Homo sapiens: one gene and its partners. The protein of the gene in region 2 purifies or fractionates together with the protein of the main gene of each other region. This does not show direct contact. Each region holds a gene or a part of one and is shown on either strand. Other genes may lie near its edges.

Region 1 (3,500 bases), on a different chromosome or scaffold from region 2:
TCTGTAACTAATAAGCGATGTGATCCTTCTTCATTTAAATACACTCCTTGTTAGATTATGGCATTAGACTAAATGAAAAAGTCCCATTCAGATAAAAGTCTATTATGCCCTCCCTACATATTATTATAGTATAGAATAATCTAAAGTTTTACAAACTAGTCTGGGAAATCCAATCCTTCCTTTTTTTAAAAAGGCCGAGAGAAGGAAACTGTACGTTTGAATAATGTATGCATTTCCTAGATCAAATGTGCCAGTTACTCAGGAAGTGAAATACAGAGGTGCCAAGACTCTTGCCCTCTGCTACTGAAAGAGCAGCCACTGATTGCTATGTGTGATACAAAAGAAATTTAAGAACTCAAGAGAGCACTTCTGACACAGCTTATTATTGCCATACATGACATCATAATTCAACAAGTCATTATATAGGGGTTTCAGATAACACTTATTTTGTATATCTGTCTTAAACACATTTCTAACATCACAAAACATAAATCAGGAAGATATCTGCTGCTGCTGCTATCAACAGATGCTGACCTGTACCATAATGATACTCAATAAATTGGTTCTAATTTCTTTAGATTATTAATTCCATAGATAATTATTCTGCATATGTCAACCAAGATTATGATTTCCTATTACTGTTTCCTTTCTGGACAGCCTCAATGAGCTTTAATAATAGCAGTTCATTTTAAGCCAGTTAGGTCTGACAAAACTTGGCAAGATATATTGCAATTGAGAGTTATTCATAATAAAAAGAGAAAAGAAGGGGCTGGGCATGGTGGCTCATGCCTGTAATCCCAGCACTTGGGAGGCCAAGGTGGGCGGATCATCAGAGGTCAGGAGTTCAAGACCAGCCTGGCCAACATGGTGAAACTCTGTCTCTACTAAAAATACACAAACACACACACACACACACACACAAATTCAGCCAGGCATGGTGGCGGGCGCCTGTAATCCCAGCTACTTGGGAGGCTGAGTCAGGAGAATGCTTGAACACAGGAGGCAGAGGTTACAGTGAGCCAAGATCGCACCACTGTACTCCAGCCTGGGCGACAGAGCAAGACTCTGTCTCAAAAAAAACAAAAAACAAAAGAGAAAAGAAGGAAAAGAAAAATACTGCACATCACTCTATTCTGAAAAGATCCCTACTTTAAATATGAAAATAGGCCGGGTTCGGTGGCTCATGCCTGTAATCCCAGCACTTTGGGAGGCCAAGGCGGGCAGATCACCTGAGGTCAGGAGTTCGAGACCAGCATGGCCAACATAGTGAAACCCCATCTCTGCTAAAAATACAAAAATTAGCTGGATGTGGTGGCATGCACTTGTAGTCTCAGCTACTAGGGAGGCTGAAGCAGGAGAACTGCTTGACTCTGGGAGGCGGAGGTTGCAGTGAGCCCAGATGGTGCCACTGCTTGCCTCGGTGACAAGAGTGAGACTCCAAGTAAAAAGAACAGAAAAAGCTCCATTTTAAAAGGGATAGATGTGGCATTTTGCTCTTTCTCCCACTTTCTTCCTTTTTAAGCTACTTCATTTTCCAGTTAAGTAGTTCCAGAGATTGTTCACCATGAACCTATATTCCTTTGGTCTTCAGATTAAACCAGCCTTTTATTCTTAATCAATAATGAAAGTTGGGGGTTAAATAACCACTAAAGGATAAGTAAGTTATTTCATTCTTAGGTTGAAACAATCTGTGTAAGTTAATTGCTTTGATATTCTGTTTTGCATACAACGAGAATCAACAAGTTTCAATGTAACACTTCGATTAATTCTATCCATGAAAAAAATGGCTTTTCTTTTACAGAATTCCAGATTCTGCATGAATAGCAGGAAAAAAATGTTGAGAAAACATGTCTTGGCTGGGCATTGTGGCTCACGTCTGTAATCCCAACACTTCGGGAGGCCGAGGCGGGTGGACCACTTGAGCTCAGGAGTTCGAGACTAGCCTGGGCAACATAGTGAAAGCCATCTCTACCAAAAGTACAAAAAAATTAGCCGGATGTGGTAGTATGCATCTGTGTTTCCAGCTACTAGGGAGGCTGAGGTAGGAGGACTGCTTGAGCCCAGGCAGTCAAGGCTGCAGGAGTCGTGATCACATCACTGCACTCCAGCCTGGATAATAGAGCCAGATCCCACCTCAAAAAAAAAAAATGTCTTAACTTCTGACATTTATTCTCAAAAGACAAAAGTCATTTACTCAGGAGGGATGGATTATTGTAGATAAGTAAGTAGGAGTATATTCCAACCCTCCTCTGTTATGTTTCCTCAGTTTGCAGAGCTACTTTTGAAGTTCAGGGCTTATACACAGAAGAGATACAGGGAACAGCACAATGCACAGAGAATCAAGCTGTTTAAATTCAAAGACAAACTATATTTCCTCATTTCTCTTCCTGCAAAAAAACTGTAAACATAAAGTAGGTTGCAGATACAATATCAACTTCCGTATGTTCTGTAAAAAATTAAGGGAAAACATGGAATGATAGCCAAACTATAAAGCATACCTGTGATGAAATATTGAGAGAAAAATGAAACTGTGTTCTTTCTCAAACTGCTATGCTTTAAAGTTAAGAATAACAGATGCAATACATCAAGCTTCCATGTTAATTCAACACTTTAAAGTTTCATTTTTAAATAGCTTTATTGATATATAATTCATATACAATTCACTCATGTACACAATTGGATGGTTTTAGTTTATTCACAGATTTGTACAATTATCACCACAAACAATTTTAAAACATACTTATGCCCTCAAAAAGAAACTTGGTACTGATTAGTAATCACCATTCCCTCATAAATCCTCATCTCCACATCTAAGGAATTACTAATCTGCTTTCTCTCCTATGGATTTACCTATTCTGGACATTTTATATAAATGAACCAATATATGGCCTTTTGTGACTGGCTTCCTTCGCTCAGCATAATTTCTTCAAGGTTCATCCATGTTGTAGCATATATCAGTACTGTAGGCTTTTAAAATTATCAAATAATATCCCATCATACATACATATTTTGTCTTTGATTCATCACCTGACAGACATTTGGGTTGTTACTACTTTCTAGCTACTGTGAATGCTGCTGCTATGAACATTCATGTAGACATTCTTATGTGAATATATGTTTTCAGTCCTTTTGGATATATACTTTGGAATGCAATTGCTTGACTGTATGGTAATGGAGACTGACTTTTAACAGATCTAGCTGAGTAAATGTCTAACAGAACAATATACTCTAAAAGAAGGGTTACACATACTTTTTAAAAAGCACTTGCCCTACTCCATACTAAGTTAAGTAAACCCACCTATAACTATAAAAAAAATTCTGAAACTGAAATTATTTTCTACTTTTTATTTTAAAAAGGTGCAGAGTTGGCTGGATGTGAAGGCTCACACCTGTAATCCCAGCACTTTGGGAGGCCGAGGCAGGCAGATCACATGAAGCCAGGCGTTCAAGATCAGCCTGGCCAACATGGCAAAACCCTGTCTCTACCAAAAATACAAAAA
Region 2 (3,500 bases):
GAAAAGATCTGGCCACAAACCTCACCATCTGAATCCTTGCACTAACTTAAGGAGGTCTGCACAGGCTTCCCTGAGGGCAAGGAGGACGGTGGCTGCTTACCTCGGCGCAGTGTATGCGGGCTGGGCCCTGCAGCATTGTGAGGTTGGCCCATGGAGAGCTGGTGGGAGCCAGCAGCTGCCTGGGGCTGATTTTGGCCAGATGCTATCTGACTGTTGTTTCTCCCTGGTGCTGGCACAGCTGCAGATACAGGGTCCTTCGGTTTGGGAGGACTAAGAGGAGTAAAAGTCAAGTTAGACGTCAGACAATCCCAGCTAGAAAATCTGAACATACTGCACATAAAACATAAGATTCCAAGCAGAGTTTTCACTTCGGCAGGCAGGAAAAGGATCTGAAATTCTAACTAGCTCACACTGGGCTTATAAAGCTAATGTTTACTTGGTGCCATATAAAGAGCTAATGTTTACTTGGTGCCATTTTTTTTTTAAGAGATGAGGTCTTGCTATGTTGCCCAGGTTGGTCTCAAATTTCTGGACTCAAGCAATCCTCTCCTGCCTCAGCACCCTGAGTAGCCGGGACTATAGGACTATTTATTTTATGAGATTCGTTGCATCAGACTGGACTCCAACGACTCTGCCACTCCAGTATCATCAGAGAGACCATTTCAAAGCAACCAATGCGGAGTTTTCAGTTCTACTGCGTTTGGACTTAAATTGGGCAGTACTTAATACCATGAAATGGCTTTTACATGTTGACATATACACTGTACAAAACTAAGCAAAAGCCATGGCAAAATAAGACCCTAAATGATAAAGGGCTTGATTATTATCAATAACTTGGACTGAAGAAGGAGAACTCAGAGGCTAAATGACTACTCGAAGTCCAGAGTTGGTAGCAGCAGGATAGAGATCAGAATTCAGGCTTCCTGTTTCCTGGCCCAGAACTTTTTATACCAAACTCTGTAGCTCCATTTTGTCAAGGTCACCAAAGAGTGAATAACATTAGTGTAATGTACATAAAAATACCTACAGAATACAGTATAAAAAACAAACAGCAGGCCAGGCACAGTGACTCACGCCTGTAACGCCAGCACTTTGGGAGGCTGAGGCACATGGATCACTTGAGGTCAGGAGTTCAAGACCAGCCTGGCCAACAAGGTGAAACCCCGTCTCTACTAAAAATACAAATATTAGCCAGGCGTGGTGGCGCATGCCTGTAGTCCCAGCTACTCTGGAGGCTGAGGTGGGAGAATCGCTTGAACCCAGGAGGTGGAGGTTGCCGTGAGTCAAGATCATGCCACTGCACTCCAGCCTGGCTGACAGAGCGAGATGCTGTCTCAAAAAAAAAAAAAGCAAAGTAACTGACATTCCATTTGTCCTTCTGCATTAAGACTAATTATTGTCTTAAATAATACATTTAGCCTTGATTAAACAAATGGAATGTCACAAGGAAATGAAAATATGTAAATTGGCTGGGCATGGTGGCTCATGCCTGTAATCCCAGCACTTTGGGAGGTTAGGGAGGGAGGACTGCTTGAGACCAGGATTGAAGACCAGCCTGGGCAACACAGTGAGACCTCGTCTCTACAAAAATTTAAAAAAATTAGCTGGGCATGGGGATGCACTACTATAGTCCCAGTTGGGAGGCTGAGGTGGGAAGATCGCTTGAGCCTGGGAGATTAAAAGGCTGTAGTGAGCCATGATCACACCACTGCCCTCCAGCGTGGGTGACAGAGCAAGACCCTGTCTGAAAAAAAAAAAACAACAAAAAACAGGCCGGGGCAGTAGCTCACGCCTGTAATCCCAGCACTTTGGGAGGCCAAGGCAGGTGGATCACTTGAGGTCAGGACATCGCGACCAGCCTGGCAAACATGGTGAAACCCCATCTCTACTGAAAATACAAAAATTAGCCAGGCATGGTGGTCCATGCCTGTAATCCCAGCTACTCCGGCGGCTGAGGCAGGAGAATCATTTGAACCCAGGAGGCAGAGGTTGCAGTGAGCCAACATTGCACCACTGCACTCCAGCCTGGGCAACAGAGCGAGACTTCGTCTCAAAAAATAAATTAATAAATAAAAATAAATAAAAATAAAAAACAAAACCAAGAAAAAGAAAATAAGTGAATTTGCTTAGACTTTTTTCCTTCAAACAAAAAAATTTAAACCAAAACAAGTACATGCATAGGGCACAATTATTGACAAGCTAACGTGCAGCCTATGAGGTGCACGGGAAGCCCTAAGAAGTCTGAAGTCTTAATTTTTTTTAACCCCAAAGTAAACTTTCCCAAGGTGAAGAAAATGGAATTCAGGAATGCACAAAGCATTCAGCATTCAGTTTTAATGGTGAAACAAGATTCCTATCTCACGAGCAGCTTCACACACAACAAGGCTCTCCCTTGCTCATCCCAAGGACGATGAGAAAGGAGTTCTTTCAAGGCAAATTCATCTCTCTGTGTGGGAAATAAACGTGTGGATAAACAGCCTGTCCTTGTTTTGTGCACATTTATTTTACTTCATATATGATCATTCGGTGTGTTGTGGATGGCCAATGCAGAACATATGACAACAAAAATTTTGGCACACATGTATGCAAAGCTAAGCAGCTGTCAGTTCCAAACCACAAGAGATGCCACCTGAAGTAGCCTCTGGTGGTCATCTGCCTGGATCAGTGTGGAGAACTGAATTAATGTCAATTAAATAAAAATCTCAAGTTATGGCTGGGCGCGGTGGCTCACACCTGTAATGCCAGCCTTTGGGAGGCCAAGGCAGGGGGATCACCTGAGGTCAGGAGTTTGAGACCAGCCTGACCAACATGGCGAAACCCTGTCTTTACTAAAAATACAAAAAAATTAGCCTGGCATGGTGGTGTGTGCCTGTAATCCCAGCTACTCCGGAGGCTGAGGCAAGAGAATCACTTGAACCCGGGAGACGGAGGTTGCAGTGAACCGAGATTGCACCACTGCACTCCAGCCTAGGCGACAGAGTGGGACTGTCTCAAAAAAAAAAACCTCAAGTTCAAGGTGACTTTTCTTAAAAGTTGCTATCCATTTGCAGCCCACTCCAGGTGGCTTATCCAAAGGTTAAGCAACTAAAAGAGCCTTTTAAGAAAATCTACCAGCTAGGCATGGTGGCTCATGCCTGTAATCCCAGCATTTTGGAAGGCTGAGGCAGGAAGATCACTTGAGGCCAGGAGTTCGAGATCAGCCTGGGCAACCTAGGGCATCTATGTTTACCCCATCTTTACAAAAATAAAAAAATTAGCTGGGCATGGTGACAAGCACCTGTAATCCCAGCTACTTGGGAGGCTTAGGTAGGAGGATTGCTTGGGCCTAGGAGGCGGAGGGTGCAGTGAGCTACGATTATGCCACTGCACTCCAGCCTGGGCAACAGAGCAAGACGCAGTCTCAGAAAAAAAAAAAAAAAAAAGAAAAAAGAAAAGCTACCATCTTATTTTCCACCTTGGACTCATGGATCAACTGCCCTACAAGACTGAAATCTGGGGGT
Region 3 (3,500 bases), on a different chromosome or scaffold from region 2:
ATAGTGTCTCCTGCTAGAACATTAAGTTCTATGAGGACACTAATACAACCCCATTGGCTACAGAGAGTGATGACAGAGAAAGAGAACTAACAAAAGGCTCCTGGAAGGTCCTCAACCTACCCCAGAGATGGTGCACCACGTAGAGCTCTCCTATCTGTGAGAAGAAGCCGCCCACTGCCTCCTGGTTCTCCTGCCGGTACTTGATGGCCCGAGCCCTGGAGAAGGCACAATAATATGGGGCAGAAGCCAGGGCTGGTGCAGAGGGTACTGAGGCTGATTCCTTGGCCACACTTCACAGGAGGGGCCTAGGTGGAACCCACGGTCCTCCGGGATGCTGAGAGAAAGGACTGATGGCGGGGTGTTCTACCAACGGAGGGGTCACAACCTTCTAGGAGATCCTCACCTCCTGGCTGGATCCTTCTCCCAGATCCATGAGGGGCAGAAGGTAAAGAGTTCCCTGTGATATGGCCCTGGAAAAGGTGGCCCACCAGGGGCCTTGGTGGGGCAGGTGAGCAGGGTACGCCTCCCCCAACCCCAGTCTTGGTGCTGCCACTTACCAGTTGTTCCCCCACTCGATCATGGTTCCTGGCTGAAAGAGAACCAAAGGGATGATGGGAATGAGCCCCCACCTCAGATTCATAGCATCACAGCTTGGCAAGGAAGGGAAACTGCCCTGTCTCCCCACCTCCCAAGCTGCAGCGGCCATTTGGCCTCATTCGCAGGCCCTGACACACACCTGGTGTGCATGTTTGCACACATGTGTATACAACTCTGCTCTGAGCCCATAGGGAGGGAGAAGCCAGAAGCCCCAGTCTAGGTGTTGGGGCAGCTGCAAAGCAGCATTGCAGCAGGGAAATTGGGGGGCAGGAGGGGGTCTGTCGGAGGGAGGCACCTTGAGCTTGTATGTCCTCAGCTCATAGATGTTGGGACCCATTCTGGGCTGTGGCTCATTCCAGAAGCTGAACTCGAGGAGCAGCTGGTTTCTCCTGGACAGCAGCATCTGGCTCCGCTCCCTTCGGAACTCCAGGTACTCCTGTGGGCATGGTGGTAAAGGCATGGCTACCAGGAAGTGCGCTCCATCCTGACAGTGTGCCTCATGGGGTAGCAGAGTAGTCCCCAGAACAGGGCTGGGCTGCATCCCACATCCAGAGAGGTGTGCTGAGTGGACACTAACATACCTTATTGTTTTTGAGCTTGTTCATGCAGTCCATGAGGGCTGGGTAGCCACCTGAGAATCGCCACAGGTGCACTGTTGGGGGTGAGAGGTATAGGTCAGTGAGCTGCTGGGACCCCCAGCAGATGACCTCCTCAAGGTTGGCTAAGTGGTGGGGACGGGGGAGGCGGGGTGGCCTGGTTCCCTGTAGCAGCAAGACTCCCTGAGTTCCCTCTGCCTTGGTGGAAGACCATGCTGGGGAGGGGATGACCCTAGACACAAGTCTAGGAGACCTGGATTTGAGCTCCAGCTCTGCCCAGCAGCCTTGGACTGCTCTAGGCCTCAATGTTCTCATCTTGAAAATGGGAATAATGTTCCCACCCCACCTTCCTTAAATAGCAACAAGAAGATCAGATGTGTCCTGTACCCTGGAAGCAGTGGCATGCATAAGGAAGACCACCAGGCCTTAGAGGGGCAGCTGAACAAAAGAACAGGGGAGAACTGATGGGCTGATATGGAACATTCCAAGACAGTGAATTGAAAAAAGGAACCAAGGAACAGAAGAGGATGTGTGGTATGCTACCTCATGTGTTGAGGTGGCAAGGACATCCAGAGATGCTAATTTATGCATCACCTCTTAATGGCGACTTAAGAGATTGACAGTAGACCAGGCGCAGTGGCTCACACCTGTAATCCCAGCATTTTGCGGGGCTGAGGTGGGTGGAGACCAGCCTGACCAACATGGAAAAACCCCATCTCTACTAAAAATACAAAATTAGCCAGGTGTGGTGGCGCATGCCTGTAATCCCAGCTACTTGGGAGGCTGAGGCAGGAGAATCACTTGAACCTGGGAGGCAGAGGTGGCGGTGAGCCAAGATTGTGCCATCGCACTCCAACCTGGGCAACAAGAGCGAAACTCCGTCTCAAAAAAAAAGAGATTGACAGTAGATGCCCCTGGGACACAGAATGGAGGCCTGTGGGGCCTCGGGCAGGAGGGAAGCTTACTTTGCATGGAAAACTCTTTGTACTGTTAGAATTTATAAAAATCCTGGGCCGGGCACGGTGGCTCACGCCTGTAATCCCAGCACTTTGGGAGGCTGAGGAAGGTGGATCACGAGGTCAGGAGATCGAGACCATCCTGGCTAACACAGTGAAACCCCGTCTCTACTAAAAATACAAAAAATTAGCCAGGCGTGGTGGCGGGCACCTATAGTCCCAGCTACTCGGGAGGCTGAAGCAGGAGAATGGCATGAACCCAGGAGGCAGAGCTTGCAGTGAGCCGAGATCATGCCACTGCACTCCAGCCTGGACAACAGAGCGAGACTCCATCTTAAAAAAAAAAAAAAAAAATTAGTTGGGTGTGGTGGCACATGCCTATAATCCCAGTTACTCGGGAGGCTGAGGCAGGAGAATCGCTTGAACCCAGGAGGTAGAGGTTGCAGTGAGTCAAGATTGTGCCAGTGTACTCCAGCCTGGGTGGCAGGGTGAGACTCCGTCTCAAGTAAATAAATAATCAACTTTGGGAGGCTGAGGCAGGTGGATCATCTGAAGTCGGAAATTTGAGACCAGCCTCACCAACTTGGCGAAACCCCATCTCTACTAAAACAAAAATTAGCTGGGCGTGGTGATGCACATCTGTAATCCTAGCTACTCAGGAGGCTGAGGCAAGAGAATCGCTTCAACCTGGGATGCAAAGGTTGTGGTGAGCTGAGATCGCACCACTGCACTCCAGCCTGGGCAAAAGAGCAAGACTCCGTCTCAAAAAATAAATAAATAAAAATAAAAATAAATAAAAATCATATTATCTGCACTGAGTTGAACAATGTCCCCTCAAAATTTATGCCCACCCAGAACCTCAGAATGTGACCTTATTTGGAAATAGGTCTCTGTGGGTATAATCGACCTAAGATGAGATTATACTAGGTGAGCCCTGAGTCCAGTGACTAGTGTCCTTATCAGAAGTGGGAGATCTGGACACAGGAGAACACTATGTGAAGACAGAGACACACAGAGAGAACAGCATGTGACGAGGGAGGCAGAGATTAGAATGACAAGTCTACAAGCCAAGGAACACTAAGAGTTTCCAGCAATCCCCAGAAACTGGAAGAGGCAAGGAAGGGTTCTCCCCTAAGGCCTTAGGAGGAAGGACAGCCCTGTCAACACCTTGATTTGTGACTTCCAGCCTCCAGAACTGTGACAGGATAAACCTCTGTTATTTTAAGCCACCCAGTTTGCGGTATGCTGGCCACCCCAGGAAACTAATCTAATTCCTAGTAACAAAGAAACCTAATTAATTGTGGAGGAGAAGAAAGGAACAGTTTTGCCATCCTGGGAGCATGGCTGGGCC
Region 4 (3,500 bases), on a different chromosome or scaffold from region 2:
TCCTTCCTGAATCTTTGAAGCTTCCATTATTGAAAGCTCTCCACAGCTCATCATGGAACAGACAAAGTGATCCAAATTATGAAAAAATACTGGTGGGGTGACTATTCTGACATTACTAAAATGGCTTATAATCAATGTTTGACTTGTCAAACTCATAATCCCAGAAAAACTAGAGGCAGTATATTTCCACCACCTGATGGACCATTTGAACATTTACAGATGGACTTCATTCAGTTACCACCCTCAATGGGGTATCAGTATGTTCTTGTAATAGTTTGCATGTTTTCTGGTTGGATAAAGGCCTTCCCATGTAGGAAAGCTGATGCTGTGACCATAGCTAAGAAATTATTAGAAAATGTTTTTCCTTTATGGGGGATCCCTCTAAAAGTCTCCAGTGATAGAGGAACTCATTTTACTGAGCAAGTTATAAAGCAGTTAAATAAGGTGTTACTGACACAGTTGCATTACCATTGTCCTTATTACCCTCAGTCTTCAGGAAAGCTTGAAAGAACAAATGGCATTTGAAAACTGAAACTGTCCAAGTTAACTGAATCAATTGAGTTGCCTTGGCCAAAGGTACTACCTTTTGGTTTTAATGGCAATCAGATTCAATCCTGTTGGAAAACATAAATTGACCCCTTATGAAATAGTCACTGGGAGGCCCATGTCCCTAATAATAGCATCTCATGCTTCTCCTGCTCTCTTAAACTCTGATATGACTAAATACTGCAAGGCTTTAATGTATTACGCCAAAGTATACTTCCACCAGGTAAAGGAAGCATTTCAAGATCCACCAACTGAGGACAATCAAACCCTCCATGGTCTGGAATTTGGAGACTGGGCCTTCCGGAAATGACATCAGAAGAAGATCACTCTTGAACCTCGTTGGATGGGACCATACCAAGTCCTTCTTACCACCCACAGTGCAGAGAAGCTTCAGGGCTTTGAACCATGGGTCCACATCTCACAATTCAAAAGGGCCCCCTCAGACTCCTGGTACTATATACCCGTTGGAGACTTTAAGGTAAAGCTGACCAGGGAAATCTCTTCCCAGAAGCAGACAGCATCCTGGTTACAGACAGCTTTCCCTAGATCACAGATCAAGACTTCTCTACCACCATGAAAGCCTTATGTGTTTTTCTGTTTTCCTTATTTTTTTCCCTAATCCTTTCCTTTTCCTTACATGAAAATCCATGGGACCATAATCAGTGGATGGCTTCAGCTCAAGCTTATGCTCTAGCACAAAACCAGGGTAACTGTTGGGTTTGTGGGCTAATGCCAAAAAATCAGGAAATGATTCCAAGGGTGCCAGTGCCCCTCCACGTTTCCCAATGAGTCACCCTGAAACCCCAAGGGAAGAATGGAAAGCTATTCTTGATACTCTAAACATCACTAGTACTTGCTTTCCTACACTCACTAAAAACAACACTCTTTTTCAACTGATAAAGTCGATCACACCAAATATAAAAAACAAATCCAAATGATGCCTACAAAACGTATATTGTGCTTGCAGGCATCACATACTCAAGATTTGGGAATTACTTATGTTAGTACAAGTGATTGCTTGTATATCCAGTAGGGTCTCTTTTTACTAGATGTGGTTATACACCCTTACAACACACTACAAAGGGGCCATAGAAAAGTAAATTTCCCACTGGATGTTATTCAGGAGCTACAGATTCATGGTCGAACAAACCTGAATGATCCCTGCTCAAATACAACTAGGTGGCCCCCTTTTCCAACCCCTGAGGGTCTCTATTGGGTCTGTGGAGAATCTGCATATTCTGTTCTGCCTCCTTGGTTGGTTTGGTTCTTGTTATCTGGCCTGGCCTGCTCCTGCCTTTCGAATTGCTTCCCCTGAAAATTCTCATGATAGCCCTTATACTTGGAGGCCAAAATGATCAATAACTGAAATTAGCACTAGCCTCGAAATAGACGAGGATAAGCTAGTTTCTACCGGGGAAAGATTCCACTGGGGTTCCTGGGGGCTCACTCTTGGTGGTAGTGAAGTACCATTTGTACGGAATTTAAAACTAATTTGTATATTGGGAAAATTCTTGGATTTGGTAGCCAATCAGACCTCCCAGGGTTTCAGATGGGTAGAAGCTACTCTCAGAAAGGCACATGACAACATACATATTCAACGAAAACACTTAATGGAAGATCATGCAGTCTTAGATCTTCTTTTTGCTCAAGCTGGAGGCCTATGTTTGGTGTTAAACAAAACTGAATTTTGTACTAATCCCTCCCCTGATTCTGTTACTACAAAAAGCTTAATTTAAAAGGTGGCTGATACTGCTGTTTCCTTAGACACTGCCACCAAGTACAATAAAGAAATCTCTCAAGAGAAAGGAACCCACGATATGTTTATAGGAGCAACTAACAGTTGGTTTGCAGGCATCCTAAGTGGTGAATGGCAAGCTTGGGTTTTCCAAGGGTTTCTAATCTTTATATCTCTTCTAGCAGGTTTTCAAGTTATTATGACTTGTATTAACAAGGTAACAATGAAAACGAGCACCTCTTTAAGTCAAGCTACTTTACAGCGAACTATGATCCTTAATCACTATCATACTCCAACTGAAGACTCTGACCAATCAGACCCCAATACTGCTGAACTGCTTATATTGTCTGAACCTTAACTTGGCTGATTTGGTTCAGTTCATTTCATAAGAACTTTTATTAAGGAGTACACCTTAGCATTTTGACGGTGTCCTCTTAACAGTCATAATAATAGTCCCCTTGGTGCACTGTATACTCTCAAGTCTTAAATGTTTTGTATGCAGCTGTACATTGACAGTTGAATGGTCTTACTCCAACTGGATCAGCAAGAACATAAAGAATCATTTAGCTGGTACAAAGTTGCAACTTGTGAATTCCCTATTAACACCAAAGAAGATGTGTGAGACTCCATACTGAAACTAAAGACGACTTGTGAGTTCCACACTGAGACCAAATAAGTCTTTATGATGGTGACAGAGAGTGGTGTCAACGCCTAAAGTTTTGGTCAATCTCTCTAAATTGAGGGGCTGACCAAAAGGGGGAATTGTTAAAGCGAACTAAATATGGCCCGAAGAGGACTCCGTACTTTTATATTTGAGTCCTTGTGGACGAACTGTAACCTAGCTCAAATAGGCAGACAAAATCGAAAACCTAACTTAGTAGTATGCATCTGTAATAACAGCTGAGTGTTGGCCAATCCCAGCGGCCATACTTCAACCACTCATAGACTGCTGAGTGTTCAAACTGCGTTCAAATAAGGCAAACGCCGAGCTGTAACCAATCTCACTGTTTCTATGTCTCAATTCTGATTCCTGTAGGTCACTTTACCTTTTCTGTCTATAAATTTGTTCTGACCACGAGGCACCCCTGGAGTCTCTCTGAATCTGCGGTGATTCTGGAGACTGCCCAATTTGTGGATCATTTTTTTTCTTTGCTCAATTAAACTCCATCAAATTTAACTTGTCTGAAGTTTTCTTTTAATTCTATGTTTTGCCCAAGGT

Evidence for each region. The genes of interacting proteins can lie anywhere in the genome.
Region 1: the proteins of ARHGAP17 (region 2) and PALS1 purify together in Homo sapiens (affinity purification with mass spectrometry; 2 studies listed by BioGRID, with this or other methods). This does not show direct contact.
Region 3: the proteins of ARHGAP17 (region 2) and NIPSNAP1 purify together in Homo sapiens (affinity purification with mass spectrometry; one large-scale study listed by BioGRID and IntAct). This does not show direct contact.
Region 4: the proteins of ARHGAP17 (region 2) and OPA1 fractionate together in Homo sapiens (co-fractionation; one large-scale study listed by BioGRID). This does not show direct contact.

What each region holds. Positions count from the first base shown.
Region 1 is NC_000014.9:67,303,935-67,307,434, reverse strand, and holds part of PALS1 (protein PALS1), read right to left. Parts: intron 1-3,500. UniProt on the Homo sapiens protein: Plays a role in tight junction biogenesis and in the establishment of cell polarity in epithelial cells.
Region 2 is NC_000016.10:24,935,370-24,938,869, forward strand, and holds part of ARHGAP17 (rho GTPase-activating protein 17), read right to left. Parts: intron 271-3,500; coding exon 101-270; intron 1-100. UniProt on the Homo sapiens protein: Rho GTPase-activating protein involved in the maintenance of tight junction by regulating the activity of CDC42, thereby playing a central role in apical polarity of epithelial cells.
Region 3 is NC_000022.11:29,560,614-29,564,113, forward strand, and holds part of NIPSNAP1 (protein NipSnap homolog 1), read right to left. Parts: intron 1,250-3,500; coding exon 1,179-1,249; intron 1,034-1,178; coding exon 893-1,033; intron 590-892; coding exon 558-589; intron 216-557; coding exon 121-215; intron 1-120.
Region 4 is NC_000003.12:193,599,708-193,603,207, reverse strand, and holds part of OPA1 (dynamin-like GTPase OPA1, mitochondrial), read right to left. Parts: intron 1-3,500. UniProt on the Homo sapiens protein: Dynamin-related GTPase that is essential for normal mitochondrial morphology by mediating fusion of the mitochondrial inner membranes, regulating cristae morphology and maintaining respiratory chain function.